2 separate regions of the Homo sapiens genome follow, and region 1 is linked to region 2. The links come from fine-mapping of genetic effects on gene expression. A gene starts in region 2. The other region holds a variant in brackets. All regions are shown on one strand. Distances are between the middles of the regions. Region 1 holds the start of GRM6 (glutamate metabotropic receptor 6). Region 2 holds the start of ZNF354C (zinc finger protein 354C).

The links. PIP is the estimated chance that this variant, and not a neighbour inherited with it, causes the effect.
Region 1: its variant is the best candidate, but not a certain one, in a credible set for the expression of ZNF354C in vagina (GTEx, PIP 0.51).

Annotation. Positions count from the first base shown.
Region 1 is chr5:178,990,498-179,006,803 of GRCh38, reverse strand. It overlaps GRM6 (glutamate metabotropic receptor 6), which reads left to right and starts at 11,484. Exons shown (of 11, transcript NM_000843.4): 1 at 11,484-11,528; 2 at 11,844-12,363; 3 at 14,721-14,937; 4 at 15,245-15,380; 5 at 16,058-16,212. The coding sequence starts at 11,860. It also overlaps the pseudogene LOC100288803. The variant G/A (reference allele first, on the strand shown) is at 11,722.
Region 2 is chr5:179,051,564-179,067,869 of GRCh38, reverse strand. It overlaps ZNF354C (zinc finger protein 354C), which reads right to left and starts at 7,497. Exons shown (of 5, transcript NM_014594.3): 1 at 7,204-7,497; 2 at 5,775-5,855. The coding sequence starts at 5,801. RefSeq lists an enhancer at 6,643-7,178.

The sequences.
Region 1 (16,306 bases), 61 kb after region 2:
AGCAGATTGCCTTCCATAATGTGGGTGGGCCTCATCCAATCAGTTGAAGGCCTGACTAGAACAAAAAACAGACCTCACCAGAGCAAGAAGGAATTCTGCCGGCAGATGGCCTTCGGACTTGAACTGCAACACTGACTCTTCCTGGGGCTCCAGACTGCCAAAGTGGCTAGGCTCCATAATCACACAAGCCAATTCCTCAAAACAAACCTCTCTCTCTCTCTCTCCCTCTCTCTCTCTCTCTCTCTCTCTGTGTGTGTGTGTGTGTGTGTGTGTGTGTAAGAGTTCTGTTCAAATTATAAATGTTAGACCCTTATCAGATGTATAGAATGTATCAAATGTTTAAAAATATTTTCTACTGTTCTCTGGTTTCCTTTTTTAGTTTCTTGATAGTTTTCTTTGATGGCAAAAGTTTTACATTTTGTTTTTAATTTACTTTGTTTAATTAAAAGTTTCCAATTTATTATTTCTTGGAGTGTTTGTGCTTTTCATACCATATCTAAGAGATTGTTGTCTAATCCAAGGGAATAATGATTTACATCTATGTTTTATTCTAAGAGTTTCATAGTTTTAAATCTTACATTGAAGTCTTTGAACCATTTTGATTAAATTTTGTGTATGATGTGAGGAAAGAGTCCAGATTCATATTTTTGCATGTATATCCAGTTATCCCAACACCGTTTGTTAAGAGACCATTTTCTTCCACATTAAATGGTTTCACCACCCTTGTCAAAAATCAATTGGCTGTAGATTTTGATTCCTTCCTTGAAAATCAATTGACTATAAATATGTTAGAATATATTTTTGGACTCCTAATTTTATTCCATTGATCTAGATATCCTTACGCTTATACCACACTGTTTTGGTCAGGGCCCCTTGCAATTCCATATATATGTGAGGATTGGCTTTGCCATTTCTGAAAAATATTAAATCTTCCAATCCATGAACACAGGGTATCTTTCTATTTATTTTAAGTTTTCTTTCATTTAATTCAGCCTTACTTTATAGTTACTAGTGCCCAAGTCTCTCACTGTCTTGGTGAAATTTATTGCTAAGTATTTTATTATTTTGAATACTGCTGTGAAAGGAATTTGTTTTTAATTTACTTTTGAGCTTAATTTAATTTATTTAATTTACTTTAATTTACTTAATTTAATTTTTATTTACTTTTGAGCTTATTGCTGATGTATAGAAATATATCTTATTTTCATATATGGGTCCCATACACTGCAAATTTGATGAATTAATTTATTAAGTATAGTAGGGTTTTTTTTGTACATTCTGTGTGATTTTTCCAAATAAAGGATCATTCATCTCTGAATAGAGAGTTTTACTTCTTCTTTTCCAGTATACATGGCTTTTATTTCTTTTTCCTGCCTAGTTGCTCTGGATAGAACTTCTGGTACAATGTTGAATAGCAGTGGTGAAAGTGGGCATTCTTGTGTTGCTCCTGATTTTAGGGGGAAAGCTTTCATCTTTTACCATTGAGTATGTTAGCCATGAGTTTTTCATAAATTCCCTTTACTGTGTTGAATGAGTCCCTTTTTTATTCCTAGTTTTCTGAGTGTTTTTATTCTAGAAGTATGTTCAATTTTTAAAAAGTGCTTTTCCTGCATTGATTGAGATTGATTGAGATGCTCGTGTGGCTTTTTTCCTTCATTCTACTAATGTGGTGAGTTATAGTGATTGATTTTCATATGTTGAACCACCTTTGCATTTCTGAGATTAATCTCGCATGCTCGTGGTGCATAATCCTTTTTACATGCTGCTGGATTCAGTTTTCTAGTATTATGTTGATGATTTTTTGCATCTATATTCGTAAGTGATAGTGGTCTATAGCTTACTTGTATATCTTTGTCCGGCTTGGTACCAGGTTAATGCGGGCCTCATATATAGAATGGTTGAGGAAGTGTTCTCTCTTCTTTTGTTGTTGTTGTTCTGTTTTTTTTTGTTTGTTTTTTTGTTTTTTTTTTTTTTTGAAGAGTTTGAGAAGGATGGATGTTAACTGTTTGCTAGAACTCACCCAGTGAAAGAAAGATTTTTCCTTTCTGGGAGATTTTTGATTGCTGGTAACAATATAAGTCTGTTAAGATTTTCTTTTTTTTTTTTTTTTTTTTTGAGACGGAGTCTTGCTCTGTCACCCAGGCTGGAGTGCAGCGGCGCGATCTAAGCTCACTGCAAGCTCCGCCTCCCAGGTTCACACCATTCTCCTGCCTCAGCCTCCCAAGTAGCTGGGACTACAGGCGCCCACCACTACGCCCGGCTAATTTTTTATATTTTTAGCAGAGATGGGGTTTCACTGGGTTAGCCAGGATGGTCTCGATCTCCTGACCTCGTGATCTGCTCGCCTCAGCCTCCCAGAGTGCTGGGATTACAGGCATGAGCCACTGCGCCTGGCCAGGTCTGTTAAGATTTTCTATTTTCTTCTTGAGTCAGTATTGGTAGTTTGTGTGTTCCCAGGAATGTGTTCACTTCATCTAGGTTATCTAATTTGTTAGCACACAATTGTTTGTAGTATTTTCTTATAACTATTTTTATCCCTCTAAGGTCAGTAACAATGTCCCCACTTTTATTTCTAACTTTTAGCACTGGGGGAGCACTGAATTAGGTAAAATAAAGACACCTTTCAAGTAGGGTCTTCCAGTGAACCATCACATGGGTCTGACAGGGGCAACTTTGCAGCCTTATGTTTTAGGGGAGTCTCATAAGCAACATTAAACTGGATTTTGTTTCACAAAAACTTGAAATTTTTGTCTCTTAAACTGAAACATTTAGCAGAATTACATTTATTTGAGTTACGAAGATACTTCAACTTAGTTCTCACATCTTACTTTTTGTTTTCTAATTGTCATACTTTTTTATGTTTTAAAATATTTAAATTGTGAAAAGTAACACATAAATTTAAAAAAAATGCAAGACCATGAATGTTCAGTGTAATAGAAGAGTGTAAATAAAACACCCACATAGGTGGGGCGCAGTGGCTCAGGCCTGTAATCCCAGCACTTTGGGAGGCCGAGGCAGGCGGATCACGAGGTCAGGAGATCGAGACCATCCTGGCTAACATGGTGAAACCCCGTGTCTACTAAAAATACAAAAAAATTAGCCAGGCGTGGTGGTGGGTGCCTGTAGTCCCAGCTACTCGGGAGGCTGAGGCAGGAGAATGACGTGAACTCGGGAGGCGGTGCTTGCAGTGAGGCGAGATCGCGCCACTGCACTCCAGCCTGGGCGACAGAGCAAGACTCCGTCTCAAAAAAATAAATAAATAAAATAAAATAAAATAAAATAAAAAACACCTGCATAATCCCTCACAACCCACAAGTGCTCTCACAAGTCACCTCCCAGTCATGATCCTTCTTTGCATTTCTTTGTGCTTTTACTACGGAAGTGTGCATCTCTACATACTGTGATTTACTTTGCCTGTTTATGGATATTATGAAAAATGGAATTACAGTATGCGTGTTCAATTATATGGACGATTAATCTGTGCTATTACTTGTCATTTTGGCTCACTCCTTTTTCTATATAATATTCCATTTCAGTGCATGGAATACCACAAGTTATTTATTCATTTTACAATGTACCTTTCATTTGTTCCATTTTTTTCTCTAATAAATAACAGTACCTTGAATGTTCATATGCATATATCTGTGCATTCATTTCTCTAGGGAATATACCTACAAATATAATTGCTGAGACCTAGGGCATGTGTATCTTCGACTTTAGTAAATAATTCAAGACTGTGTTCTTGCAAATTGCACCAATTTACCCTCCCACTGGCAGTGCATGAGGATTCCTATGTTTCATCACCCTTAACACAGGGAATTTTGAATCTCTTCAATTTTAGCCTTTCTGCTGGATAGTTCATTGTGGTTTAAATCTACATTTCCCTAATTTTAACAAGGCTAAATTTTTTCATATTGTTATAGATATTTTGATACCCTTTTTTGTGAACTGACTGCTCAAATCTTTTGCCCATTTTTCTAATGTGTAATTTTTGTTTTTATGATTGATTCATAGAAGTTCAGTCTGCATGCTGTAGCCTAGTGCTTTGTTGGTTATATGAGTTATAAATATCTTCTCCCACTTGGTGGCTTGCCTTTTCCCTCTCTTTATGGAGTCTTTTCCTCTTGTTTTGTTTTCTAGAAAAATAGTGTTATGAACTCTTATAAACCTATCATCTAGCTTTGATCATTATCAACATTTCATCCTTATCCTTATGCTGTCTGTAAGAGAGTTCTTAATTTTAAGGTTGTCAAATGTATAGTTCCTTTCTTTTATGATTAGTTTTTTTGTGTGTTCAGTTTAAGATATCTTTCCCTAAGGTCATGAAATACTCTCACCTACAATCTTTGACCTATTTATTGGTTTGTGATATGGTTTGCCTCTGTTCCCCATGCAAATCTCATGTTGAAATGTGATCCCGAGTATTGGAGGTGGGGCCGGGTGGGAGGTGACTGGATCATGGGGGCAGACTTGCCCGTTGCTGTTCTCATGATAGCGAGCGAGCTCTCACAAGGTCTGGTTGTTTAAAAATGTGTAGCACTTCCCCCTTCTCTCTACTCCTCTTGCTCTGGCCATGTGAAGACACGCGTGCTTCTCCTTCCCCTTCTGCCATGATTTTAAGTTTCCTGAGGTCTCCTCAACCGTGTTTCCTGTAGAGCATGTGGAATTGTGAGTCAATTAAAACTTTTTTCTTCATAAATTACCTAATCTCAGGTAGTTCTTTATAGCAGTGTGAGAACAGACTAATACAGTTTGCATTTCCCATTTAGGTAAATAATGCATCTGAATTGATTTTGGTGTGTGGAATGAGGTAGGGGTATAGTTCCTTTTATTTTCATAGGGGCACCTAATTTTCCCACTTCATTGATTGAAAAGACTGTCTTTTATCCACAACTCTGTAGTGTCATCATTCCCAGGCTTTTTCTCTTGGGGGGTGTGTGTGTGTGTGTGTGTGTGTGTGTGTGTGTGTGTGTGTTGCTGTGGCCTCCAGCTGGCCCTCCAGAGCCCTGTCTCAGGCTTAGTGGTCGCGGTCGTTGGGGATCCTGAGCTAAGCCAATGCTGATCATGAGAATCCCAGTCACACAACTGCCAAGTGGCTTCCATCCCTGGCCGAGCCCGCGAGGCTGACTCTGGTCACACAGCTGCCGAGTGGCTTCCATCCCTGGCCGAGCCCGCGAGGCTGACTCTGGTCACACAGCTGCCGAGTGGCTTCCATCCCTGGCCGAGCCCGCGAGGCTGACTCTGGTCACACAGCTGCCGAGTGGCTTCCATCCCTGGCCGAGCCCGCGAGGCTGACTCTAGCTATTGCCTGTGATGGTGTCTGTGCCACAGGGGCAGAGGTCAAAAGTTATGACAGAGGGGCAAAGCCAAACATGTTTACTCACTGGTTTTCTATTGGTGCTGTAACAAGTTACCACAAACTCAGTTCATGACAACAACGCAAATTGATTCTCTCACAGTCTGAAACCAGTTTCAGGGGATGGAAATCAGGGTGTCAGCAGGACTGCCCCCATCCAGGTGCTCTCGGGGAGATCCACTTCCTTGCCTTTCCCAGGTGTCAGAGGGGCATTCCTTGGCCCTTTCTGCATCTTCAAAGGCTACATTTAGCATTGTTGCATCACTCCCTGCTGCCATCTTCATGGCACCTTCTCTTATTCCTGAGGGCCCTACGATTACATGGGGCCCACGTGACAATTCAGGATCTCACAACCTTAATCTGATCACGTCTATAAAGTCCCCTTTGCTATATAAGGCAGCACTCACAGGTTCTGGGAATTAGAACTTCGACAGAAGCAAGGGTATTATTCAGCCTACACATGTCCCTTTAGGAAAAAGTTTTCTTGGCTAGGCATGGTGGCTTGTGCCTGCAATCTCAGCACTTTGGGAGGCTGAGGTGGAAGGATTGCTTGAGCCTAGGAGGTGGAAGCTGCAGTGAGCCATGATTGGGCCACTGTACTCCAGTCTGGGTGACAGAGCGAAACCCTGTCAAAAAAAAAAAAGCCCCGAAAAAGTCAAAAAGAAAAAGTTTTCTGAGCCATGTTCTGAGTAGATGTTCACTGTAGATCTGGGATGACTTCTCGGAGATATATTCTATGGCCTTGTTGTATAGTACTTTGATTTCTCTAATTTTGAAGAAAATTTGTGTTCTGGTTAAAGATCTTCCTGTTTAAAAACAAAACAATATCCCCTAACTAATGGGTTCCTTAAAATGAAGTTTCTCAAATATATTTCATGTTTGAAATCCCTCATTGCCCTGTGGAAAGGCAGCTTAAATAAAACACAGCCTTTATAAACCAGTGTCTGGTGCATTGTGCACTTAAACATTTCTGTTTCAAAACGGAGGCAGTTCCTCCATTATCAAAACTGTGAGCCCAAGAGTTGGTGTTCACGTTGAACTTCAAGCCAATGCCAATGCCAAGCAATAAAAACCACATGGACTGGTATCATGAAAATGATGAATTCTAAACCCCAATATGATGCGTTCAATTCCTTTGGAAAGCTGTTTGGGCCTTTTACTTAGGCTAAGATTCAGATTTGATCAAATTACTTTATGATTTTCCTTTTGAAAATACTCCCTCTCGGCCAGGCGTGGTGGCTCACGCCTGTAATCCCAGCACTTTGGAAGGCAGAGGCAGGCGGATCATGAGGTCAGAAGATCGAGACCATCCTGGCTAACACGGTGAAACCCCATCTCTACTAAAAATACAAAAAATTAGCCAGGTGTGGTGGCGGGTGGCTGTAGTCCCAGCTACTCTGGAGGCTGAGGCAGGAGAATGGCGTGAACCCGGGAGGCGGAGCTTGCAGTGAGCAGAGATCGCACCACTGCACTCCAGCCCGGGCGACAGAGCGAGACTTCCTCTCAAAAAAAGAAAATACTCCCTCTTCATTTATATAATGTCACAAACAGGCAAAACTGTACCACGGGTTATTTAGGGATAGACACTTATTTTATTATGGATTCCAAATTAACCTACACTTCATGCATTTCGTTGTTGTTGTTGTTAGTTTTGAGACAGAGTCTCGCTCTGTCACCCGGGCTGCAGTGCAGTGGTGTGATCTTGGCTCACTGCAACCTCCGCCTTCTGGGTTCAAGTGATTCTCCTGCCTCAGCCTCCCAAGTAGCTGGGATTACAGGCACGCACCACCGCGCCCGGCCCACTTGCATTTCTATGCCACACTCATAAGCGGATCATGAGGTCAGAAGATCGAGACCATCCTGGCTAACACGGTGAAACCCCATCTCTACTAAAAATACAAAAAATTAGCCAGGTGTGGTGGCGGGTGGCTGTAATCCCAGCTACTCAGGAAGCTGAGGCAGGAGAATCATTTGAACCGGAGAGGCGGAGGTTGCATCACTGCACTCCAGCCTGGGCGACAGAGCGAGACTCTGTCTCAAAAAAAAAAAAAAAAAAAAAAAAGATACGGACACTGAGGCTAAATAAAGGTACAGAGACTTGCTCAAGGTCACCTTGATAAAAAGTGACCAGGCCAAGATTTAGACCTGGGCTCTGTAGCCCTGAGTGTGCACTGAACCACCCCCCTATAGTCCCACTGGGTGCCCTTTGCTCTTTCCCCTGGATGCCTCAGGCCCAGTCAGAGGGTCTATGGAGGGAGTTATGTCCCCAAATTCTTACGCGGAAGCCCTACTGGCAATATCAGTGCTGTAAGAGTGGACGGAGCTGTAACAGGGGATGAGGTTAGATGAGGTCGCGAGGGTGGAGCCCGAATCCGATAGGCCTGGTGGCCTCATGAGCAGAGGACAAGAGGACTCTCCCTCCTCCTGCACACACCAAGAAAAGGCCACATGAGGACGCAAGGAGAAGAGGATGGTCTGCAAGCCAGGGAGAGGCCCGCCCCAGAACCCACCACGATGGCACCCTGATCTCAGACGCCCAGCCTCCAGAGCAGTGGGAAGACAAATCTCTGTTCTTTAACCCTCTGTCTGTGGGGCTTTGTTATGGCCGCCCAGCTGAGGAAAACAGCCACAGGGTCTGCAAAGCTATGGGGTGTGACCACAGGGCAGTGCGTTTGTGGCATCCAGACCCACACTTGTGCCGTGGTGAAGTTCAATGAACAGAAGCTTGTGACAGACTCCTTTGACGACACTGTGGCTTGCTGGGAATGGAGTTCCGGAGCCAGGATCCGGCACTTTCGCGGGCACACGCGGGCAGTGTTTAGCGTGGACTACAATGATACCTTGGTGAGCGGCTCTGCGGCCTTCACTGTGAAAGGATGGACTTTATCTACTGGGGCATGCCTGAGCACACTCACTGGGCACACGCCATGGGTCACCAAGGTAGTTCTGCAGAAGTGCAAAGTCAAGTCTCTCTTGCACACAGTCCTGAAGGATACCTCCTCTTAAGTGCAGACAAATATGAGATTAAGATTTGGCCAACTGGGACAGAAATCAACTGCAAGTGCTTAAAGACATCCTCTTGTCTCTGAGGTTAGAAGTATCCGCCTGCAGCCAAGACTTCGTGTTGATGGCAAATACACTGTTTGTAGTTCAGCCCTCCGTCTCTAGCAGCGGGACTTTGCCAACAGTTATGATATTCTCAGGGTCATCAAGACTCCTGAGATAGCAAACTTGGCCTTGCTTGGCTTTGGAAATACTGTTGCCCTACTGTTTGGCAGCTGCCACCTGTACATCATGGACTTGCAGACCCAGAGCCTCATTAATCGCTGGCCTCTTCCAGAGTACAAGAAATCAAAGAGAGGCTCAAGCTTCCTGGCAGGCGAAGCATCCTGGCTGAATGGAGCAGATGGGCACAATGACACGGGCTTGGCCTTTGCCACCAGTATTCCTGACCACAGTATTCACCTGGTGTGGAAGGAACACAGCTGACACCATGAGCCCCCACCACCGACTGACTATGGGTGCTAGGGCGGGGGTTTTGGGGTGCAACCTCTATGCCAGCTGACTGCATGAACCAAAGTTCTCACCTATGGTATCATCACGCAGTGCACGTCATTTATCTGTTTGCCAGGGGGCCAGGGCTTGGGGTGGGGGAGGGCTTGTTTTACTGACACACATGTAGCATGCTAACGGGGTACATCATGGACTTCATTTGTACTCAGTTAGGTTGGTGAGTGTAAAAGGATCCATTCTGGTTCATCTTTCTTGAGTGGAATATTGGTTTTATATAAAGAAAGTTAAATGATTTGTTAATCTGCTGATTGGTTGCGTATGAAATCACATTGTCTGTTATTAAAGCTTTTCACCATAAAAAAAAAAAAATCTCTGTTCTTTGACTGTCTGTGTGGAACTCTGCCATAGCAGCCCAGCTGAGGAAAACAGTCCCAGGGTCAGGGAACAGCAGGACTTCTTCTTGGGGCAACCTTTTAAATGACGTCCTGTGCATTTTGTACAAATTCTGTGCTACCTCATCGAGCCTGAGCAGCTGTATCAGGATGCTGTAAGAGGGCCCTATGGCCTGTGCGAGGTGCACTTTGGCCTTCTGCCCCTGCACGGGGCTGAATAAATTATGCTGAATGTTCCCTCCTTCCTCAATCCTTGTTTCTGGGCCCCTCTGGTGCCTACGCTCCTGCTTCTCCTCTAACTCCTCGGCCACCCCCTCCCAGTCTCCTTACTTCTGCTCAGACCTGCATGTTGGGGTTCCTGGGGCTCCAGCCTCACTGTCTGTCCACACTCTCAGCCCCAGGGAACTCCTGCGTCCCACGGCTTTAAACGCCTCCGTGGCGATCCCACCTCAGCTTTCTCTCCCGCCCTGGCCTCTTCCCTCAGTTCCAGGCTCATGAACCACGAAGCCTCCACTTTCCTGCCCAAACCCGAACTCTTGGCTTCTGCCCTCCTTGACCTGCTCAGCTGTGTCTCTGGTCCTCATATTCTCAGGGAATGCCCCAGCAGCTATGCCATCCTCCACCCCTCCAAGAGCCAAATCTCCATCAGGTCTAAAATCCTGCCACCCCCCTCCCCTTCTCCTCCAGCCCCCTGCTCACAGGTGTGCATGCCTCCCTCCTACACGGCGAGGACCCCCTGCCAGTCCCCCAGCTGCTGCCCCCGCTTCCTGATGGTCTGTCCTCCAGACAGGGGCAGTGGCTGCCTTGGTCATGCCAAGCAGGAGGCTGCTGTGTGCTGGGAGCTGTCAGGCTCGTCCTGAACAGGGAAGGGCCCATCCACCTCCCAAACCCAGTTTATGCAGTCCTTCGCAATGTCAGGCTCAGGGCCTGGCACCAGCCAAGCTCCCCACCCTTCCCACTGTTAAAATGGATAGGAGCAGGGCTAGGCCCAGCCTGTTGACTCTGGGCTTCCACCAGGAGAAGTGGTTCTGGCAGTAGAAACTATCGGGGCCTGGGAGAGGCGGGGGAAGAGAGAAAGGTGGCATGTTTCTTGCTTGCTCCCTCTACCAGCCTTGTCCAAATCCCCGCAGCCACCCTAATCCAGCCTGTCTAATGGAGCCCAAGCCGGCTCAGGCCCTCGGACGAGGAGCCTGCTAATCCCTGTGGCTAGGAGCTCACCACCTGTCTCCAGGACGCCCTTTGCTCTCTTGGCATCAGAGAGCCAAATCCTGGGCCTCGGATGGGGGGATGATAAAAGCATCTTTTGGCCAAGCCCCCTCACCTTGGCCTCCACGATGAGATGGGGAGTTAGGTGCAGAGAGCGTTGGCACAGTGAGCACCGCAGCTCGAGTGGCTGCCTCAGACCCAGAGCCCGAGGAGACTTTATACGGAGCCAGAACGACCCCGCGGGGTTCCATCCTCCCAAGCAATAGGCGGGAGTGGGAGCTGCGAGGAAAGCCGGCCCCTCCCCTCCCTCCATCCAAGGCAGTGTGGGCTGTTTGTTTCATGCCATTCTGGGTGTGAATCCTGATGCCCACACATGCCAGCTGCATGCACTTGGGCAACTCAACTCACTCCTCGAGGGCTGTTTCTCGACTGCAGGGTGTTGTAAGTTCGCTAATACTAAAGGCTTCTCCCTCCTGGCCCCTTCCTGCCCCTCGCTCTTCCTCCTCTTCCTTAGGCCCTCCCAGCTCAGGCAGCCCCTGCCCCCTGCAGGGTTCTGCAAGGAGAAAGCTGGGGAATACCTTAGGCAACTGCAGTCAGGAGCACTGGTGGCCAGGACAGAGACAGAGAGACAGAAAAGGGGTCAGGGACAGAGAGAGATAACCGCAGGGAGAGACAGGAAGGGACAGAGACAGAAAAGATTTCCAAGAAGAGGACAGAGGCAGAAAGCCAGGGACAGAGACTGAGAAACAGAGACCTAGAGGCAGAAGAAGACTGAGATAGAGATGGACAGAGATTGTGTCAGACACAGCCCCAGAGACAGCCAGACAGTCTGAGTCAGACGCAAACCAAAGACAAGAAAACAGGAAAACAGACCCAGAGATTGGGAGAGGGAGGGGAAGGAGATGCGGGGAGAGCCAGCACCGCCACCCCCCACACTCAGGAGGGGTCTCCACCCTCGGAGCGGTCTCTCATCCCTCCCTAGAATCCTTAAATCCTCTCTCGCTCAGGGCCTCGGCCGCATCTGTCACAGACTTGTCCTGAACCGACAGCGGCTGGCGCAGGTGACTGGCTTGGGGCGGGAGCCTGGGTGTGCGCTGGGGATGGACCCCGAGGAAGAGGGGCCAAGCTGTCGGGAAGCGGCAGGGCTGGAGGGGTGGAGGCAGTGGTCGGGCGGGACCCCGGGCGACAGGGTTCGGCGCTTGTAAGAGCGAGACGGAGGCCCGGGCAGGCCGGCTGAGCTAACTCCCCAGAGCC[G/A]AAGTGGAAGGCGCGCCCCGAGCGCCTTCTCCCCAGGACCCCGGTGTCCCTCCCCGCGCCCCGAGCCCGCGCTCTCCTTCCCCCGCCCTCAGAGCGCTCCCCGCCCCTCTGTCTCCCCGCAGCCCGCTAGACGAGCCGATGGCGCGGCCCCGGAGAGCCCGGGAGCCGCTGCTCGTGGCGCTGCTGCCGCTGGCGTGGCTGGCGCAGGCGGGCCTGGCGCGCGCGGCGGGCTCTGTGCGCCTGGCGGGCGGCCTGACGCTGGGCGGCCTGTTCCCGGTGCACGCGCGGGGCGCGGCGGGCCGGGCGTGCGGGCAGCTGAAGAAGGAGCAGGGCGTGCACCGGCTGGAGGCCATGCTGTACGCGCTGGACCGCGTCAACGCCGACCCCGAGCTGCTGCCCGGCGTGCGCCTGGGCGCGCGGCTGCTGGACACCTGCTCGCGGGACACCTACGCGCTGGAGCAGGCGCTGAGCTTCGTGCAGGCGCTGATCCGCGGCCGCGGCGACGGCGACGAGGTGGGCGTGCGCTGCCCGGGAGGCGTCCCTCCGCTGCGCCCCGCGCCCCCCGAGCGCGTCGTGGCCGTCGTGGGCGCCTCGGCCAGCTCCGTCTCCATCATGGTCGCCAACGTGCTGCGCCTGTTTGCGGTGAGGGCCGCGGGGCCGGGCTCGGTGTCCAGCGTCCCTCTCCCGTCCTCGCCCTGGGGTGGCCCAAGTCTCCTTCCTTTACTTCTTCTGAAAGAGTCTCCGTTTTAATCACTCGAATTCACACAGCGTCAAAGAAGCCCTGTCAGTTGAGCCCGACGCAGGCCTGAATCGGCTCCACCCAAACACTCCAGCCGCCCATGTCTACCCCGCCCCGCGAGGGCGCCCCTTCCCGGGCGGGTGCCACCTACGCCTCTGGCCGGTTGGCTGGGGAGGGCGGCCTGACTTCAGCCCCCATTTGCCAGCCTGCTCGGGTGCCCTTGTTCTGGGCACACCCCTGCAACCATACAAGGTGCTCCTGCCCCCTGGGCCTGCGGAGCGCTCGAGTGATATTGCAACTTTGAGTTTTGTTTGGAACCCGGGCCCTTCTTCCAGAGCAGCAACTGGGGCGTGTCCCTGGGCTGCTATGGGGGATGGATAGGCCTGAAAGGTCTGGTCTTTCTCTTTTTTGATCATTTAAATTTATTTTCAAAATGCCTTGAACTCTCCCTCAAGGGGCATCTGAGAGCAGGGCGGGGCGTTCCCTTCTGAGCTCTGGTCTCCTGCACCCTGCCCTGCGCAGGTGCCCGGGCTGGCCCTGCTCTGTCCTCAAATGTAGGGAACTGTCCCGTGAGGGGCAGCGTGTTCCTTGCAGTCCTAGGGGCCAGCAGAATCGGGATTAGGAGGGCTTTGGCATACAAGTTTGGGGGTTTTCGATTTGGTCATTCACTGGGGGTTGTGGGACAGTTTTTCTGGGGTTCTGTGGCGGGAGGGGCCTGTGTGCATCCGGCTCTCTGTGAAGGAGGAAGGCCTGGCTTCCATCTACCTAGGAGAGGAACTTCTGTTTCCTGAGAGCTTCTCCGACTCCCGGGCGCAGCGTCTGTGTTTGTTCCAGGCGTGCGGGGCCGCTCCCTATCGTCTGCGCACATGAAAGCCCCCATCCCTGTTTCCTCGGATTGGCAGTGTTGATGTGACATCTCCACGCTGGCACCAGACAGGCTGTGCGGCCGCCCAGGGGTTTTTCACCCACCTGTATGTGTCCCCGGCCCTGCCTAGAGCTCTAGTTTCTGTCTCTGTCCTCTAGGTCGAATGCAGAGATTCCAGACCCCAAGGCCTTCAGGGGCCCAGTTGGGGACTCAGGTGGGCAGGACTCTGTGAGCCCAGGGCCCGCTGCTGCCAGCTCAGCCCAGATTGAGGTTGTGCTGCCCGGCTAGAAATGCAAACATTAATAAAAACTGTGCAAAACACAGCCACAGGCAAGATGCTGCAATTCCTGGTCTAAAAGAACTACATTCATTTCCCAGCCACATGACCGTGCTGGCAGGCATTTTAAATTAACTTCCCTCAGGAGGTCCAGGGGGCATGGGAGGGTTGTTCCCAAACTCAAGTGTCCAGGAGAGCTGGGAGGACCACAGCATTATTCACTGAGCTGTGGCCACTGGGCCTTTCTCGTCTCTCGGTCTCCTCAGTTGTTTCTCTCTCTCTCTCTCCCTCTCTCCTTCTTGTTTCTCTCCAGCCCCACCTTCCCTCTTTCTTTCTCTCTCCCTGCCACTCCCGGCTTCCTTTTCATGCTGTCTCTATACTTTCTATCCTGCTTCAAACAACCCTGGACCAGCCCCCCTCCCTCCTTCCAGAAACTCCCCCTCTCTGGCCTTCACACCAGCTCCTGCTATAGCCCCTCTTGCGCTGGAGCCCCATAGCCCCCTCTTGGCGGCCTTCTCAGCCCCGTGTCTCTGCCTCCACACTCCCCGGTCAGTTCAGCCTCTGGTCTCTGCTGTTAATCACTCTAATGCATGCAGAGAAACCCAGTTTCCAACAATCCCCATCCTAGGCCAGACACAGCTTTAAATGGAACATCCCCTGCTGCTCCCCTGTCTGCCCTAATCCCTCCTAGGGCTGCCTGTCCCTGCGGACCACCCCTTGGTGTGAATCAAGAAAACGTGCTTTGCCCTGGGCCTGACTAGGACAGGCAGATGCAGCTGGATGGGCTGCAGGCCCTCTGCTGGGGGTCCTTGTTCAGGACACAGCTTGTACCAGTATATGTGGCGGTCCTGCCCTCTCCCCAGCCCTGCATACCTCCCACCTGCACAGCATTCACGGAATTCTCAGGCCCACTCGCAAAACACCACAGCTTCCAGCCTTTCCAGGTGGCTGCTCCAGCTGGCCCCAGGTCCCCACCCCAACCCTTCCATCTCCCATCTGTGTCCCAGGTCCATGCCACACACCTTCTGTGCCCCGTCCGTGTCCTGGGCCCCCCTTACCCTCCCTCTCTTGAGTTACTGACCTCCATCCACAGCCCAGCTGTCCTTCCTGCCCCACAGATACCCCAGATCAGCTATGCCTCCACAGCCCCGGAGCTCAGCGACTCCACACGCTATGACTTCTTCTCCCGGGTGGTGCCACCCGACTCCTACCAGGCGCAGGCCATGGTGGACATCGTGAGGGCACTGGGATGGAACTATGTGTCCACGCTGGCCTCCGAGGGCAACTATGGCGAAAGTGGGGTTGAGGCCTTCGTTCAGATCTCCCGAGAGGCTGGTGAGCTGGGGGCTCCGAGGCACCAAGGAGTCTACATAGTGTGGGCCCGGGGCCCTCAGTTGGGGCAGAAGCAGAAAGATGGGGGGCCCAGGTCCATGCTGGGCCGAGGTTGCCTGGCTGGTGCTCCATGTGGGCGGGACCTCTTTGTTTTGGACGACTCAGCCCTGCCTCAGGCTTGGCGGAGGGTGCAGGCCAGACTTCACCCCTGCAGACCCTTCAGCCAGCCTACACAGTCCTCTGCAGCGGTGGCCAGGTGGGTGTGTGGGTGGGTGGGACGGAAGCTGACTCTGGCACCCCCAACGCCCAGGGGGGGTCTGTATTGCCCAGTCTATCAAGATTCCCAGGGAACCAAAGCCAGGAGAGTTCAGCAAGGTGATCAGGAGACTCATGGAGACGCCCAACGCCCGGGGCATCATCATCTTTGCCAATGAGGATGACATCAGGTGGGACAGTGGCACAATCACCGGGCCCCTGGGGCTCTCCCTGAGGGTCCCACCCCTCCTCTTGCACATCGCCACCTTACACACTCTCCCTGCCTCCCTTTCCCCTGCTCCCCGCACCCCCCACCTTCCCTGCTGCTGCCTCTGAGTCTGGTGCCCAGGCTCAGAAGCAGCCTGGTCTGGGGAGATGCCACAAGCCCAGACTGAATAGCGCACAGAACATGTGTCTGTGTTTACAGCTCCTGGGGGTGCGGGGAGGGACCTGTGGGCAGAACCTAGTGCAGAAAATGAGCTGTGAGGGAAGGAGCCCAGGGTCCATACAGAGGCTGCGGACCCCAGCCCGAGACCCACCGGCCCGAGTTCATCTCCAGCCTAGGAGGCTGGGTGTGACGCTGGTGGAGGCATGTGGGGAGGGGCTGGCTTCGAACTGGATTTTCCCCCAAGGAGTCCCTCTGAACCCCCTGAACAGTGGGTTACAGTGGGCAGAGCAAGTGGGCAGGCCTAGGGTCAGAGGAAAGCCCAGGGAAGGTGCCCTAAATGCCCCCGGCCCCGTTTTTCCTGAGAAACAAGGATCTGGTGAGTGATTATAGAGCAGGGGAGATGGATAGAGTGGGAAGGGATGGGGGCCGAGCTGGAGGAGGCTCCCAGGCCCTCCCTCACCCCAGCCCTGCTCCTACCAGGCGGGTCCTGGAGGCAGCTCGCCAGGCCAACCTGACCGGCCACTTCCTGTGGGTCGGCTCAGACAGCTGGGGAGCCAAGACCTCACCCATCTTGAGCCTGGAGGACGTGGCCGTTGGGGCCATCACCATCCTGCCCAAAAGGGCCTCCATCGACGGTGAGTCCAGGGGCACTCCATCCCCCACCCCACACGTCTCCCCAGCACCCCCTCTTGGGGATGCTCATTTTCTGCATCTGTGTAATTGGTGCCA
Region 2 (16,306 bases):
CATTCTTCTTCTTCTTTTTTTTTTGAGACAGAGTCTCACTCTGTCGCCAGCTGGAGTGCAGTGGCGCCATCTTGGCTCACAGCAACCTCTGCCTCCCAGGTTCAAGCGATTCTCCTGCCTCAGCCTCCCAAGTAGCTGGGATTACAGGCGTGCGCCACCACACCCAGCTAATTTTTGTATTTTTAGTAGAGACGGAGTTTTGCCATGTTGGCCAGGCTGGTCTTGAATTCCTGACCTCAGGGTGATCCGCCTGCCTTGGCCTCCCAAAGTGCTGGGATTACAGGCTATACATATTTTAATTCTGACAAATGTGGAAGATTATACTTTCCCAAGATGACCACATCAATTTCTCTCTCATCTTACGTGCTCTTTGTATAATGTGACACTGACATTTCTCCCACCAAGAAGTGAGTTCTATGTTTCCTTCCTTTGAAGCTGTCCAGTGGAATTCAATGGAAATGATGCATGTAACTTCCAAGAAAAAGTAGTAAAATAATACACCTTTCACCTGGCTCACTGGATGCTCACTTTTGGAGCCTAGTCGCCATGTTGTAAGCCCAAGTCACAAGGAGAGATTATGGGTAGATGCTCCATCCAATAGCCCTATCTGTGATCACAGCAATGAGCCAACAGCAAGCATCAACTACCTGACATGTGAACGACTGAGGCTTCAAACGATTCTATAGCCTTTAGTCTTTAAATCTCTCAGCTGAGACACCCGACTTTGTGTGGTAAGCTGTTTCTCTCACACACCTGCATTCCTAACCCAGAGAAACTGTGAGAAATGATAAATGATTACTGTCATTTCATATTCCAAATCTTCTTACTATATAGCATGTATATCCTTCCATGTTAAAAATACAATTCTACTTGATCATTTAAAATTACAATGTAATTGGGATGCCATAAGGAGAAGAAAGAGAGAACAGAGCAGAGTGAATATCCAAAGTAATAATGGCTGAGAATTTTCCAAAATTAGCAGCACATCTCAAACCTCAAATCCAGAAAAGTCAGAGAAGGCCAAGCAGGATGACTACCAAAATATCTACACCTAGGCATATTATATGAAAACTGCAGAACACCAAAGTCAAAGGGAAAATCTTGAAAGAAGACAGGGAAAAAGATCTTACCTATAGAGAACAAGGATAAGAATGACAGTGGATTTTCCCATTAGCAACATGTAAACAAGAAGAGAGTGAAACAAAATATTTAAATTGTTGAGGGAAAAAATCACCAATGTAGAATTCAATATCCAGGGAAATTATCCTTCAAAAAGGATGAGAAGTAAAGCTCTCTCAGACAAACAAAAACTGAGGGAATTCATTACCAGCAGTCCTGCCTTGCAAGTAATAGTAAAAGAAGTTCTTCATGGGGAAGGAAAATAAAATAGGTCAGAAACTTGAATCTACCTGAAGACAGGAGGGAAGATAGAGAAGGAACAAATGATGATAACATTTTTCTTACTCTTGATTTAGAAGATAACTATTTGCTTAAATTAATAATAGTAACAGTGTATTGGGTGGTGATAGCATATGGATGAGTGAAATGAATGGCAGCAATGCCGTAAGGAAGAGGGGAATACTCTGTTATAAGACACCTCCACTACCCATGGTGCAGTATGTTATTTGAAGGTGGACTTCGATTAGTTGTAAATTTATATTGAAAACTATAGGGTAACCACTAAAAAAAAGTTTTTAAAGCATAATTGATATGTACAGACAGCAGAAAGATCCATGGTTGCCATACTGATATAAATGAATGTTTGAATAAATAAATAAATGGAGAGAAGCAACAATCCTCCATACAGATTTCCAAATAATGTATGTTGATTCTTCACCTCTAGGAGTGGTGCCTGTCTTGCCAGGCCGTAAGTGTGGGCTACACAGTGTCGTCTTTCGAAGGAATACAGTATGGGAAGGCAGAAAAAGAAAGTAACTGTAGAGTGGAGAGACTTGACAAACAGTGCCTCAGTCAGGTGATGAAGGTGAACAGCAACAGGGATGTCATGTTATTAGTATGCAATTGTAGTATGCTGTGATCAGACTGACGCTTCATCTCTGTGACCTTCCTCCCCAAAACCCAACCCCAGGCTAATAATGAGAAAAAACATCACGCAAATCACAATGGAGGGGCATTCTACAGAATACCTAATCAGGGCCGGGCATGGGGGCTCCTGCCTGTAATCCCAACATTTAGGGAGGCCAGGCAGGCGGATCACTTGAGGCCAAGAGTTCGAGACCAGCCCAGCCAACATGGTGAAACCCCGTTTTTATCAAAAATTCAAAAATTAGCAGGGCGTGATGGCACATGTCTGTAATCCCAGCTACTTGGAGGCTGAGGCAGGAGAATCACTTGAACCCAGGAGGCAGAGGTTGCAGTGAGCCAAGATCGCATCATTGCACTCCAGCCTGGGTGACAGAGTGAGACTCCACCTCAAAAAAAACAAAAAAACAAAAACAAAAACAAAAAACAACCTAACCCAGTACTCCTCAAAACTATTATGATCATTACATACAAGGAAAGTCTGAGAAAGCCCCAAAGCCACAGCAGCCTAAGAAGATGTGAAACTGAATGTCATGTGGAATCCTGGGGGGCCCTGGCACACAAAAAGGACAGCAGGTAAAAACTAAGGAAATGTGAATAAAGCATGGACTTCAGTTAATAATAACATACCAATGGTGGCTCGTTAATTGTAACAAATATACCAAATTAATGTAGGGAATAACGGGAAGCTGGGTGCAGGGTATGATAACTGTGTAATTATTCTCTCGTCTAAAATTGTTGTAAAAAAAATAAAGATTATTCTTTTTAAAAATACTGACAATATCAAAAAAGTACTTATTTACTGCAGAAAAATATGTAATTAACAAATTATGACTATTAAGCAATCAATACCAAATTCCATGTGCCTTTTCCCCAGACAATAAATTATATATTACATGGAAATATGTAATATTGCAAAGAACCTATTTTTTTCCAAAAAATATGCTTGTTTGCAGTTTTCCTAACAAGTAGAGAGAAATTTCTCCCTCGGTACCCTTAATGAGGACAGAATGTGATATTGGATATCACCATTGCACTGACTTAAATGGGGTAATGAGACCTGTGATTGGGACACTCTGGGTCCCCAGGAGACTTAATCAAAAGGGTTACATAGGCCGGGCGCGGTGGCTCACACCTGTAATCCCAGCACTTTGGGAGGCCAAGGCAGGTGGATCACGAGGTCAGGAGATGGAGACCATCCTGGCTAACATGGTGAAACCCCGTCTCTACAAAAAAAAAAAAAATTAGCCAGTGTGGTGGTGGGCGCCTGTAGTCCCAGCTACTCGGGAGGCTGAGGCAGGAGAATGGCGTGAACCCGGGAGGCGGAGCTTGCAGTGAACCGAGATGGCGCCACTGCACTCCAGCCTGGGCGACTGAGCAAGACTCTGTCTCCAAAAAAAAAGGGGGGTTACATATTGGCCGGGCACAGTTGCTCACACCTATAATCCAGCACTTTGGGAAGCCAAGGCAGGAGGATCGCAGGAGCCCAAGAGTTCCTTCCAGCCTGCAGTGAGCCGAGATCGCACCACTGTACTCCAGCCTGGGCGACAGAGCAAAACTCTGTCTCTAAAAAAAAGCAACAACAACAACAACAAAAACCCACAAAAGGATTAGATATTGAATCAGCTGTCACCCCTTCCAAAAACAACAACAACAAAAACTGGCTCTGAGTTGCAAACAAACCTACCTCTGCCCTTGGCTAAAATGAAGTAAGTCTCTCCTGCTGTGGATGTAGGCGAGCTCAGATAGCGAACAACCCTACCTTTGGGCAGCAGATAGCCCAGGTAATAGCTGGATATTCCTGTGCACTGCATTTTGCTGGTCTTTACGTCTTGGTTTCCTGAAATATCCATCTGCTTCTAATTAAGGAATCAGGCCTAGTGAGGCGAAGCACACCAAATCTGGCAGGTCCTAAAATAGTGCTGCTGCTGCTGTTACTGATACTGATCATAGTAACAGCTGGAATTTATGGAGGTCTTAATACGTGCCATGCACTTCTCTCAGCATTTTAAATGTACTTTTTCAGAGCATGATGCTAACAGTATAGACTGTCTTGTTGGGATCAAAAGCCAGCTGTGTGACCTTGATCAAGTTACTTGCTTCTCTGTGCCTGTCTCCTCATCTGTACAATCCAGATATTAACAGTCCTCTTGTAAGGATTAAATGACTTACTATATGAAAGGAATAGATATTTTTATACATAGTAATACATAGAACCTGGCTCACAGCAAATATGCTTGTAATTACTACTTTTTGGGGTTCTTTTTGAGACAAGGTCTCACTCTCGTGCCCAGGCTGGAGTGCAGTGGCACAATCATAGCTCACTTGCAGCCTCGAATTCCTGGGCTCAAGTGATCCTCCTACCTCAGCCTTCTTAGTATCTGGGACTATAGGTGCTGCTGCACCCAGCTACTTTATTTTTAATTTTGTATAGTGACAAGGCCTCACTATGTTGCTCAGGTTGGTCTCAAACTTCTGGGCTCAAGCAATCCTTCTGTCTTGGCCTCCCAAAAGTGCTGGGATTATAGGCGTGAGCTACTGTGCCCAGCTACTACTGTTACTAATGCTCATAGCAACTCAGTCATGTATGTATATTATTAACCCCACCAAAATTGAGGAAATGGGGTACAGAGAGATAAAATAACTTGCTCAGGGCTACATCCCTAGCTTGGATTTGAAGCCATGAAGTCAAGCTCCTGAGTCCACATTTCCAGCCTATGGGCTATTGGAAAAGGAGTCAATGAAGAATAGGCTTTGGAGTATGGCAGAAAAAATGCACAGAAGGGAGGGGACTAGAGGAAAGGGAGCTGGTGTTGAAGGAAAGATGGGACTTCCACGTCGGAATGACAGACAGGAATGCTAGGAAAAAGGTCAGGCCTGAGGACAGATTTGGGGAAGATACTCAGAACGCTGAGGGTTAAAGTAATGAAAATGGATCTTAAATGGGGAAAGAACAAGAAAAAAGAGCCCAGGTAGAGAGGCTAAACTAGCAGAGAAAAAAGAAAAGAATCAGAGAAGGAAATAGAGGAATCAATCAGACAGGTGAGATGGACATTTGGACAGCTTAACATCCCCGCTGCACTGGGAGGGGAAGGCCCCAGGCCTGCCTCCTTCTGGGCTTCAAAGCCCAAACCACGCTGAACTCCTTCTGGGATGCCCTTAGTCTTCTCTAAGCACCAATATCAGTCCTGGCCTCCAGTATAAACTCAGAATGCCCCCACTTCTGGGATATTTCCCCTGAACATTTAATCATGTTTCCTAAGATCGATACCACGAACTCCCAGAAGATGGAAATGACAGCTTTCCTCTTTCCATCCCGTGTGCTGCACAGGATCCTGTACATAGGGCTCAATAAATGCTTGTGGAGGCTGTCTTCCGGCCCTTCCACATCTTAGCCCCAAGTGTGACTATATCCTCTATGAAGACAGAGACTGCTTCATGCCCCATTCTCCCCACCCAGCACCAGTGTAGTGGGAAGCATATGCTCAGAACTGCCTCAAATGTGGATCACAGAGTGAGCGGGGTGAATTAAGAGTAGTCTCGGGACAAAAGAGGCACATTCCTCAGCAGCCCCTTGCTAAGCCCAAGACACTGGGAAAAACTTTTGAGGTTCCGGATTCTTCATCGTTTTGGTTGGACCAAAAAGTACCTGGACAAAGTCTGGAAACATGTCTACCATCTCTGAATCCAGAAGCCAACTGATGAAAAAGACAACCTTCACTCACTCTCACCTGAGCAGACAGCAGATCCACAGCCATCCCTTCCTCCTCAGTCTTCCTGCCCAGGGAGAGCAGAGTGTGGACACGGTGGGTCTGCAGAGGAAAAAGGTGTCAAGAGGAACCCTGGCGTCAGGAGATGGCTTGGAGAGAGGAAGTTACAACCGCCCATAATGTCCATCAGGTCTCAAAAAAGCCACCCCCCGTAATGATGTAAAGCAAGAAGAGTGTTTACTAGTTTACTAGGGCAATGTGCCAACCCTACTTCTATTTCTGCACTTGGACTCTTTAACTTCCACCTTCGGGCCTCTCAGCTACCTCTAGGCAAACCGTGACTCCCCCATGGATGTCTGGAGTCCTTCGCTAGCTTTGAACTGCACACCTAAAAGTCGCAATGAATATCCAGTCTCCTGGGGCGCCACTTCCCAGCCTAGCTAGCTGATCCTCATCCTGCCTGCCCTGCCTCACCCTTTCCTCCCTATGGTAGCCACGATAAAGAGGCTTCCCCGCATCCCTACCCTGGTGACAGACCCCACTGCTCGCCCTGAGTGGTCCTTCCGTGGAGTGCTGTGTTCTCCCCAAGAAACTGTGAGCATAATCCAACCACTCAGCTTTCCCAGCCTCTTTACTAGATCTTCGTCGGGCCTTACCACACTTTACCCAAGGTAACAGGATTAAGGCACTGTCCCCACCCAAAGCCAGAGCTTTGCTGTCCCTCCTAATACTCCACAGGTGCCGCCTCTAATGGCACCCACAACCAGAAACAGCCGTCGCTGCCCAAACACCAACCCCAGGTGGGAGAGGTGGAAACCGTGCCCGCCCCACAGAAAGCAAGGGAAGAGGCTGCCTGGGGCAGCCGGGCAAGTGTGAGGGCCTCCAGGCCCGCGATCTGCAGCGGCGACTCAGGGTGCCCCCTAGCATGGAGCCAACCTGGGGCTCTGCCAGGCCAGTTCCAGCGGGTGCCTCGACCAGCCCAGGGGAAGCTGCCACACAAGGCCTCGGTTACGCGACGAAGCGCACCTCCTCCCAGGAAGCGGTGAGTGTTTTCCACGCAGTATTTTCAATCTTCACATTTACAGATGTTACGGAGACTGAAAACCAGGAGGTCGTGACCTGCCCAAAGTCATAAGGGCCGGGAAGGCAATCCTGATCCTAGCCCCAGGCCCCAGTTACATCTGGGGCAATGACCTCGCCACTCTGCCTCGGTCTCCTCCTGACAGAGCGGGAACAGCGTACCGCCACCCTATCTGTTAGCAGGGATGCGCGGAGTTCGTTCGGGCGATGCGCTAGTCTGGTGCCTGGCACCCGAGCGCTCTCGGCGGGCATCAGCTATTGCTTTTATTATTTCCGTTACTCAGAAGAAAATGCACAGAAGAAAATCGCAGAATGAACAACGACAAAAGGCTGGCATCCCCACCCCAGCGGCCCGGCGCACCCAGCTCACCTGGCGAGGCGCTCCCTCCCGCGGGTCTCCGGCAGTCCAGGCCGCTCGCGGACGGCGCCCCGGGACCCAGTGGCCAAGGGGCCCGAGCCGCGTAGGGCTGGTCCCAGAAGCCCAGACGAGGCTGCACGCCGCCCACTCGCTGGAGAGGCCCGGATCCACCCCGGCCCGGAAGAGACCACTGCGAGCGCCTCAACCCCAGGCCGGCAATCCTAGCCAAGCCTGGATGGCCCAAGCCAGGAGAACCCCCGAAAGGCCGCGAGCTGTCCCCGAAACCCCGCCAACCGCGGGAGAACTACCACTCCCGGCATGCCTCCGGCCCCACGCCGACTACACTTCCCAGGGGACGCCGCGGTGCGCGCTGCGAACTCCGGGAGAGGAACCGCCTCCGCCAACGAGAGCTCTCAAAGGCGACAGTGCGCGGAGGGGCTGCAGTGCGAGGGAGTACGCACGCCGCACACGAGGCAGGAGGTCTCCAGCTGCTGGCCGTGCTGCCTACAGCCCGCGCACTTGTTAAGCAAGCGGAGTAGTTTGAAAAAACAAAACCGGAAATTAGATTCATTTAGGAGGATCAGTGTGCTGTAGCTCCCACCGCTGGTTGTGATTACTTTTCTGTTGATACAAAATAATTTACATAATGTATAGGGTCCATGTGAGTGCTTGTTACGTGCATAGACTGTAATGATCATCAAGTCACAGTATTTGGGGTATCCATCACCTTAAGCATTTATCATTTTTATGCGTTGGTATCATTTCAAGCCCTCTCTTCGATTTACTTTGAAATATACACAATATTATTGCCAAGTATAGTCACCCTAGTCTGCTATTAAATATTAGAAATTATTTCTTCCATCTAACTGTATGTTTGTACCCATAACCAACCTCTCTTCATTCCCCTTCCTTTCTGGCCTTCCTGGCCTTTGGTATCTATCCTCCTGTTGTCTATGTCCATGAGATCAAGTGTTTTAACTCCCGAATATAAGTGAGAACATGCAGTACTTGTCTTTCTGTGCCTGGCTTATTTCACTTAACATAATGACCTTCGGCTCCATCCATGTTGCTGTGAATACATTATTTCATTCATTTTTATGGCAGAATAGTATTCCATTGTGTCTATGTATGACATTTTCTTTACCCATTCATCTATTGCTGGTAGGTTGAGTCTATATCTTGGCTACTGCAAATAGTGCAGTGACAAACGTGAGTGCAGGTATCCTTTTCATATACTGATTTCTCTCCCTTTACCAGTAGTAGGGTTGCTGGATTGTATGGTAGTTCCATTTTTAGTTTTTTGAGAAACCTCCACACTGTTTTCCATAGTGGCTGTACTAATTTACATTCCCACCAATAGTGTATAAGAGTTCCCTTTTCCCCAAATCCTCACTGGCATCTGTCATTTTTTTGTCTTTATAATAATAATCATTCTAACTGGAGTGAGCTTATATCTAATTAGAAAGTGTTAGTAACCAAAAGAGCATGATATTTGTATAAAAATAGACACACACACCCCCCCATGGAACAGAATAAGAGAACCCAGAAATCAGTGCACCCATTTACAGCCAACTGATTTTCAACAAAGGTGCCAAGAACACACAATGAGGAAAGGACTACGTCTTTAATAAATGGTTCTGGGGAAAACTGGATAATAATATGCAGAAGAATGAACTTGGACCCCTTCTCTCTCAACATATATAAAAGTCAACTCCAGATAGATTAAAGATTTAAAGACTCCAAACTATAAAACTGATAGAAGGAAACATCGGGACAACTCTTCAGGACATTGATCTAGGCAAAGATTTTTCTTTTTCTTGCCTGTGCTTTTGAGGTCTGTGGCTAAGACCTCAAAAGCACAGGCAACAAAAAGAAAAATAAACAACTATATTAATCTAAAAAGTGTCTGCACAGCAAAAGAAACAACAGAGTGAAGCAACAACTTGAGAGAAAATATTTATAAATTACTCATCCAACAAAGGACTAATACCCAGTATATACAAAGAATTCAAATAACAGGTTTGTGACCAGCCAGGCCAATGTGGCGAAACCCCGTCTCTACTAAAAATGCAAAAATAGCCAGGCGTGGTGGTGCATGCCTGAAACCCCAGCTACTTGGGAGGCTGAAGCAGGAGAATTCCTTGAACCTGGGAGGTGGAGGTTGCAGTGAGCTCAGATCATGCCACTGCACTCCAGCCTGGGTGACAGAGCGAGATGCCATCTCAAAGAAAAAACAAAACAAAAAAAACCACAACAGTATACAAAGAGTCCCATTAAAAATGGGCAAAGGGCTGGGCACAATGACTCATGCCTGTAATCCCGGCACTTTGGGAGGCGGAAGTGGATGGATCACTCGTGCCCAGGGGTTCCAGAGCAGCCTCAGCAACATAGTGAGACCTTGTCTTTACAAAAAATAAACGAAATTAGCCAGGCATGCCAGTGCAGGCCTGTAGTCCCAGCTACTCAGGAGGCTGAGCGCAGAGGATTGCTTGAACCCAGAGGTTGAGGCTGCAGTGAGCAAAAATAGCACCACTGCACTCCAGCCAGGGTGACAGAGTGAGACCCTGCCTCAAAAAAAAAAAAAAAAAAAAAAATAGGCAAAGGACCTGAATAGACATTTCTCAAAAAGACATTCAAATGGCCAACAGGTATATGAAAAATGTTCAACATTACTAATCATCAGAGAAATGCAAATCAAAACCACAAGATAGTTATGTTATTTTAAATTCTTTTAATGTGTACCATACACAGGAGATAATGTATTCATAGGCACAGATTTTTGTTTTTATTTATTTATTTATTTATTTATTTTGAGATGGAGTCTCACTCTGTCGCCAGGCTGGAGTACAGTGGCGCGACCTTGGCTCACTGCAACCTCTACCTCCTAGGTTCAAGCAGTCTCCTGCCTCAGCCTCCTGAGTAGCTGGGACTACAGGCACGTACCACCATGCCCAGCTAATTTTTGTATTTTTAGTAGAGATGGGGTTTCACCATGTTGATCAGGATGGTCTTGATCTCTTGACCTCGTGATCTGCCCACCTCAGCCTCCCAAAGTGCTGGGATTAGAGGCATGAGCCACTGTGCGAGGCCCATGGTTTAATAATAATAAAACAAATACCCACATACCCAACACTTGGGTTACCAAAGAGAAATTTACCCAAAATTTGGAAGCCTTGTTCACAGTGCTCCCAAGTCATTTTCCTGAGTTGCTTTCAGCATTCCTTTGTTTTGTTTGATAATTACTCCACATGCATGTGTCCCTAAACATTGTTTACTTTTGCAACATTTTAAATCTTTATAAAAAGACAACCTGCTATATACATACAATATACAATATGTATGTATATAAAGGTAATCTGCTATATACATACAATATACAATTGTATAGTTTCAATTGTACATTGTATTCAACTTTTATACAATATACAATATGTATGTATATAGCAGATACCCTTTATATAAAGATTTCTGCATATATATGTGTATATGCCTATATGTGTATATATGTATATATATCATGTGTATATACATGCATATATGTATCATGTGTATATATGTGTTCAACACAAACACTTTTAGATTAGTCTACCTTGATACATGCAAAGTTCATTCCTTTTCATTACTGTATAGGATTTCATTATTGATTCATTCAGCAACAACAAAAATTATGTTGAACACTTATCCTGTGCCTAGCATTGTGCCAGATTCTGGAAATACACCAGTGGGCAAAACTGGCAAAACCTGTGCACAAATGCAGCTTGAATTTTACTGGAAGAGAGAGAGGAAAGATAATAAGAGGAATAAATACGTTTTGAGATAGAGATGAGTGTGAAGGCAACCAAAATAATTCACTCCAAAACATACTTCCCTGACATATCTTGAGATGGCTATTCAGAGAGCTTGCAGACAGGAATAGTCCTGAAAAGCTGTCTTTTGTAGAGGAGACTTGCATCTGTTGAGGAAATGAAGTGCAGTCAACAACAGATGTGAATAGGCTTTCTCTGAGGCTCTCCCCTCGTCCAGATCTGAGAAAGACTAACTGAGAGTCTGACACCTTTGAAAATCTGGTGCAAACTTTAACCACGGGCTACCATTTGCTCTTAGGCTGCTACCTGTGCAGCTTCATTTGCATAATGAGTCTACCTTTTCTTCAGGTCTTTCCTCTTCTCTCCCTCCTATAACCCGCCTTAGCCGTGATCCAAGCCCCTGTTCTTCCTGTAACTTCAAGATGGTATAAAAATATCAACTACCTTGCCTTTCTTTGAGTTTTTGTATGTTGTATCACTCCTGTGCTTGTATGAACTTTAATAAAATTTGTATGCCTTTTTTTCCTATTCAGCTATGTATCATTTTGTTTTATAGACTCAAATTATCGAAACTTCAGGGGAAAAATTTAAACTTCCCTGTAAGTGCAAACAAGAATTTAAAAAGGGAACAGGAACATGGAGGGTGGGAGAGTTTGCAATTTTACACAAAGTGGTTAAGAAACATTTCATTGAGAGGGTGACATTTGAAGAAAGACCTGCAGAAGATGAGGGATGGGCCAATTTAAGTATCTGTGGGAAGTCTTTCTGGCAGAATGAAAAGCGGATTCGAATACCCTGAGGTGGGAGCATGCCTGGCTTGTTGAAGGAACAATAAGGACACTGTTGCTGAAGCAGAAAGAAAAGGGAGAGAACAGTAGGAGATCCTAGGCAAGGGGGCAGAACGTGGAGGTTCTTAATGGGTTCTGTGTCAGTGGATTTCACTCTGAACGAGACGAGAATGCGCTGAGTAGCGGAGAGTGATAAGACTACCTCCTTGACCAAACTTTAGTCAGGCCGTTCTGAGCCCTCGTTTTCACTAGGCATTGACCTTGGCCCTCATTCTGTCCTGCCCAGCCCAGTCTTTGCAAAGAGTCTTGATAAGTCAGTTTAGCAAGAATCCCCCAACTCTTGACATCTGATCATTCTTACTATCTGACAGAGTTTCTCATCCCCCACCTTTGCTGTGTTAGCAAGAATGCTGTAAAGCCAGCTGAGCAAGAATTCCCTTGCCCCGATGGCTCTGAAACCACCCTCGCAGGGTTAGTGAGAATTTCAAGCCAGAGTTTAGGGAGAATTACAGTTAGACATTGAGCAGGGTGCAGTGGTGCCCTTTGACCCACTTCCCTGAAGCTCTAACTAACCAAGAGTCCTGTAGTGTGCCGACCACCTGCTCCCCCATTGCTCCTATAGGCAGAATCTCTGACACTGGATCTTCTAACCCAAGAATTGCTTAAGGTGTTTTCCAGATCCTGAATTCCAGCAGGATGGCTGACGCCAGTGGGTCTGAAGATCCCCGCCAGGGAACCGACTAAACACAGGAATGCAGTTTCTTCCTCTCCCTGTCCCATGACTTGACCCCTTACTTTTCAACCAATCATCAATCCCCACACTTTAGCCCTTCACACAGCCAGATCCCTTAAAAACCCCATCCCCAAACCTCTCGGGGAGGCAGATTTGAGGTTTCCTCCCAACTCCTCATTTGGCTGCCCTACAATTATTAAACTCTCTGCTGCGACTTCCACTTTTGGTGCATTGGTCTGCTGTAACGTCTCCTCTGTAAGGAAGGCGAATGCCAGGCCAGACAGAACGCTAATTTGCTGACTGCAGCAATTAGAGGGATCCCCCACAAAGGGCAGGGAAAGGGGGGTTCCGGGAGGAATGCCCAGTCCAATTGCTCGCGTCTGCAGCGTAACCAATGTGCCTACTGTAAAGAAATAGGACCTTGGAAAGATAAGTGTCCACAACTGAAGGAGAAGCAAGGTGATGCGGAGCAAAAGACCACAGATAAAGACCAAGGGACTTTGTGCAATCTGGCCGAAGGGCTGCTAGACTGAAGGAGACTGGGCTCAAATGCCCCCAAGGAGCCCATGGTCAGGATGACAATAGGGGGCAAGGACATTAAGTTTTTGGTCGATACCGGTGCCACTCAGTAGTAACCACCCCAGTGACCCCCTTATCTAAGAAAACCATTGATATAATCGGAGCAACGGGAGTCTCCGCCAAGCAGGTTTTCTGCCTACCGTGGACCTGCTCGGTGGGAGGACACAAAGTGACTCATCAATTTCTGTAAATGCCTGACTGCCCTTTGCCTTTGTTAGGGAGAGACTTGCTTAGTAAGCTGAGAGCCACCCTTTACAAAACAGGGCTCCTTACAGGCTGAAGTTACCAGGAACAGGAGTTACCATGGTCCTTACAGTCCGCCGAGAAGAAGAATGGAGACTTTTTCTAACTGAGCCAGGTCAGGAGATAAAACCGGCTCTAGCTAAGAGTGTGGGCAGAGGACAATCCTCCGGGCTGGCGATCAGTCAAGCCCCTGTACTCATAGAAATTAAGCCTGGGGCCCAGCCAATTAGACAAAAGCAGTATCTGGTTCCCAGAGAAGCTCTTGAAGGAATACAGGTTCACCTTAAACGCTTGAAAGATTTTGGAATTATAGTTCCTTGCCAGTATCCATGGAACACCCCCCTCCTACCTGTCCCCAAGCCAGGGACCAAGGACTATCGACCTGTACAGGACTTACGCTTGGTTAACCAAGCTACAGTGACTCTGCACCCAACAGCTCCTAACCCTTACACACTGTTAGGATTGCTGCTGGCTGAGGACAGCTGGTTCACTTGTCTGGACTTGAAGGATGCCTTCTTTAGCATCAGGCTAGCTCCTGAGAGCCAAAAGCTGTTTGCCTTTCAGTGGGAAGATCCGGGGTCAGGTGTCACTACTTAGTACACTTGGACTCGGCTTCCCCAGGGGTTTAAAAACTCCCCCACCATCTTCGGGGAGGCGTTGGCTCGAGACCTCCAGAAGTTTCCTGCTAAAGACCTAGGCTGCATCTTGCTCCAGTACGTGGACGACCTTCTGCTAGGAGACTCCATGGCAGATGGGTGTGCAAAAGGGACGGATGCCCTGCTTTGACACCTGGAGGACTGTGGGTATAAGGTGTCCAAGAAGAAAGCTCAGATCTGCAGACAGCAGGTACGCTACCTGGGATTCACTATCCGGAAAGGGGAGCGCAGCCTGGGGTCAGGAAGAAAGCAGGTCACCTGCAGCTTACCGGAACCTAAGCTACTGCCTACTGCAGTGGCCAGCCCGGAGGATTGTCCTCTGCCCACACTCTTAGCTAGAGCCAGTTTTATCTCCTGACCTGGCTCAGAAAAAGTCTCCATTCTTCTTCTCGTGGGACTGTAAGGGCCATGATAACTCCTGTTGCCTGTAACTTCAGCCTGCAAAGAGCCCTGTTTTGTAAAGGAAATGGTGGCTCTCAGCTTACTAAGCAAGTCTCCCGCTAAAACCAGAAGGCAAGTAAGGGTATTTCTAGGAGCCGTGGGATTTTGCAGATTATGGATTCCAAACTTTGCGGTGCTAGCCAAACCATTGTATGGGGTTACAAAGGGGGGCGACCAGGAGCCTTCTGAATGGGGACCTCTGCAACAGCAAGCCTTTTGCAAGTTAAAGGAAAAACTTATGTCAGCCCCAGCCTTAGGACTACCAGATTTGACAAAGCCCTTTACACTCTATGTGTCAGAAAGACAAAAAATGGCAGTCAGAGTTTTAACCCAAACTGTGGGGCCCTGGCCAAGACCAGTGGCGTACCTCTCAAAACAGCTAGACGGAGTTTCAAAAGGCTGGCCTCCATGTCTGAGAGCCCTGGCAGCTACAGCCCTGTTAGCACAAGAAGCAGACAAGCTAACCCTTGGGCAAAACTTAAGTATAAAGGCCCCCCCCATGCAGTGGTAACTTTAATGAATACCAAAGGACATGATTGGTTAACAAATGCTAGATTAACCAAGTACCAAAGCTTGTTATGTGAAAACCCCCACATAACCACTGACGTCTGTAACACTCCGAATCCTGCCACCTTACTCCCAGCATCAGACAGCCCTGTCGAACATGACTGTGTGGAAGTGTTGGACTCAGTCTATTCTAGCAGGCCCGATCTTCGAGACCAGCCATGGGCATCAGTGGACTGGGAGTTATACGTGGACGGGAGCAGCTTCATCAATCCGCAAGGAGAAAGATGCGCAGGATGTGCGGTGGTGACCTTGGATGATGTTATTGAAGACAAACCGTTGCCTCACGGCACTTCAGCCCAGAAGGCAGAGCTCATTGCTTTAACCCGGGCTCTAGAACTCCGTGAAGGTAAGACTGTGAACATTTATCCTGACTCTCGATATGCCTTTCTAACCCTCCAAGTGCACGGAGCATTATATAAAGAAAAAGCCCTGTTAAATTCCGGGGGAAAGGACATAAAATATCAACAAGAAATTCTGCAATTATTAGAGGCAGTATGGAAACCCCAAAAGGTAGCAGTCATGCATTGCAGGGGACACCTGCAAGCTTCCACCTCAGTAAGCCAAGGAAACTCCCGAACAGACACAGAGGCACAAAAAGCAGCATCTACTCTTTACCAGGCATCAGTCACAGCCCCTCTACTCCCTCAAACACCTGATCTGGTGCCTACTTATTCTAAAAAGGGAAAAGACGTTCTTCAGGCAAAGGGAGGACAAACAATAAAAGAAGAATGGATAAAGTCACCAGATGGGAGAATAGCTGTGCCACAGCTGCTAGGAGCCGCAGTTGTGCTGGCTGTACATGAAACTACCCATTTAGGCCAGGAGTCACTTGAAAAGCTGTTAAGCCGGTATTTCTACATCTCACACTTGCCAGCTCTTGCTAAAACAGTAGCGCGGCGATGCACAATGCAAAGCAAGGTCCCCTGTTCCTCCCGGCACACAAGCCTGTGGAGCAGCTCCCTTTGAAGATCTTCAAGTGGACTTCACAGAGATGCCCAAATGCGGAGGTAACAAGTATTTACTGTTCTAGTGTGTACTTACTCTGGGTGGATAGAGTCTTATCCAACACGAACTGAAAAAGCTTGTGAAGTAACCCGTGTGCTTCTTCGAGATCTCATCCCTAGGTTTGGACTGCCTCTACGAATCGGCTCAGATAATGGGCCGGCATCTGTGGCTGACTTAGTACAGAGGACGGCAAAGGTATTAGGAATCACTTGGAAGCTACATGCCACCTACCAACCTCAGAGTTCCCGAAAGGTGGAGGGAATGAATTGGACTATCAAAAATAGTTTAGGGAAAGTA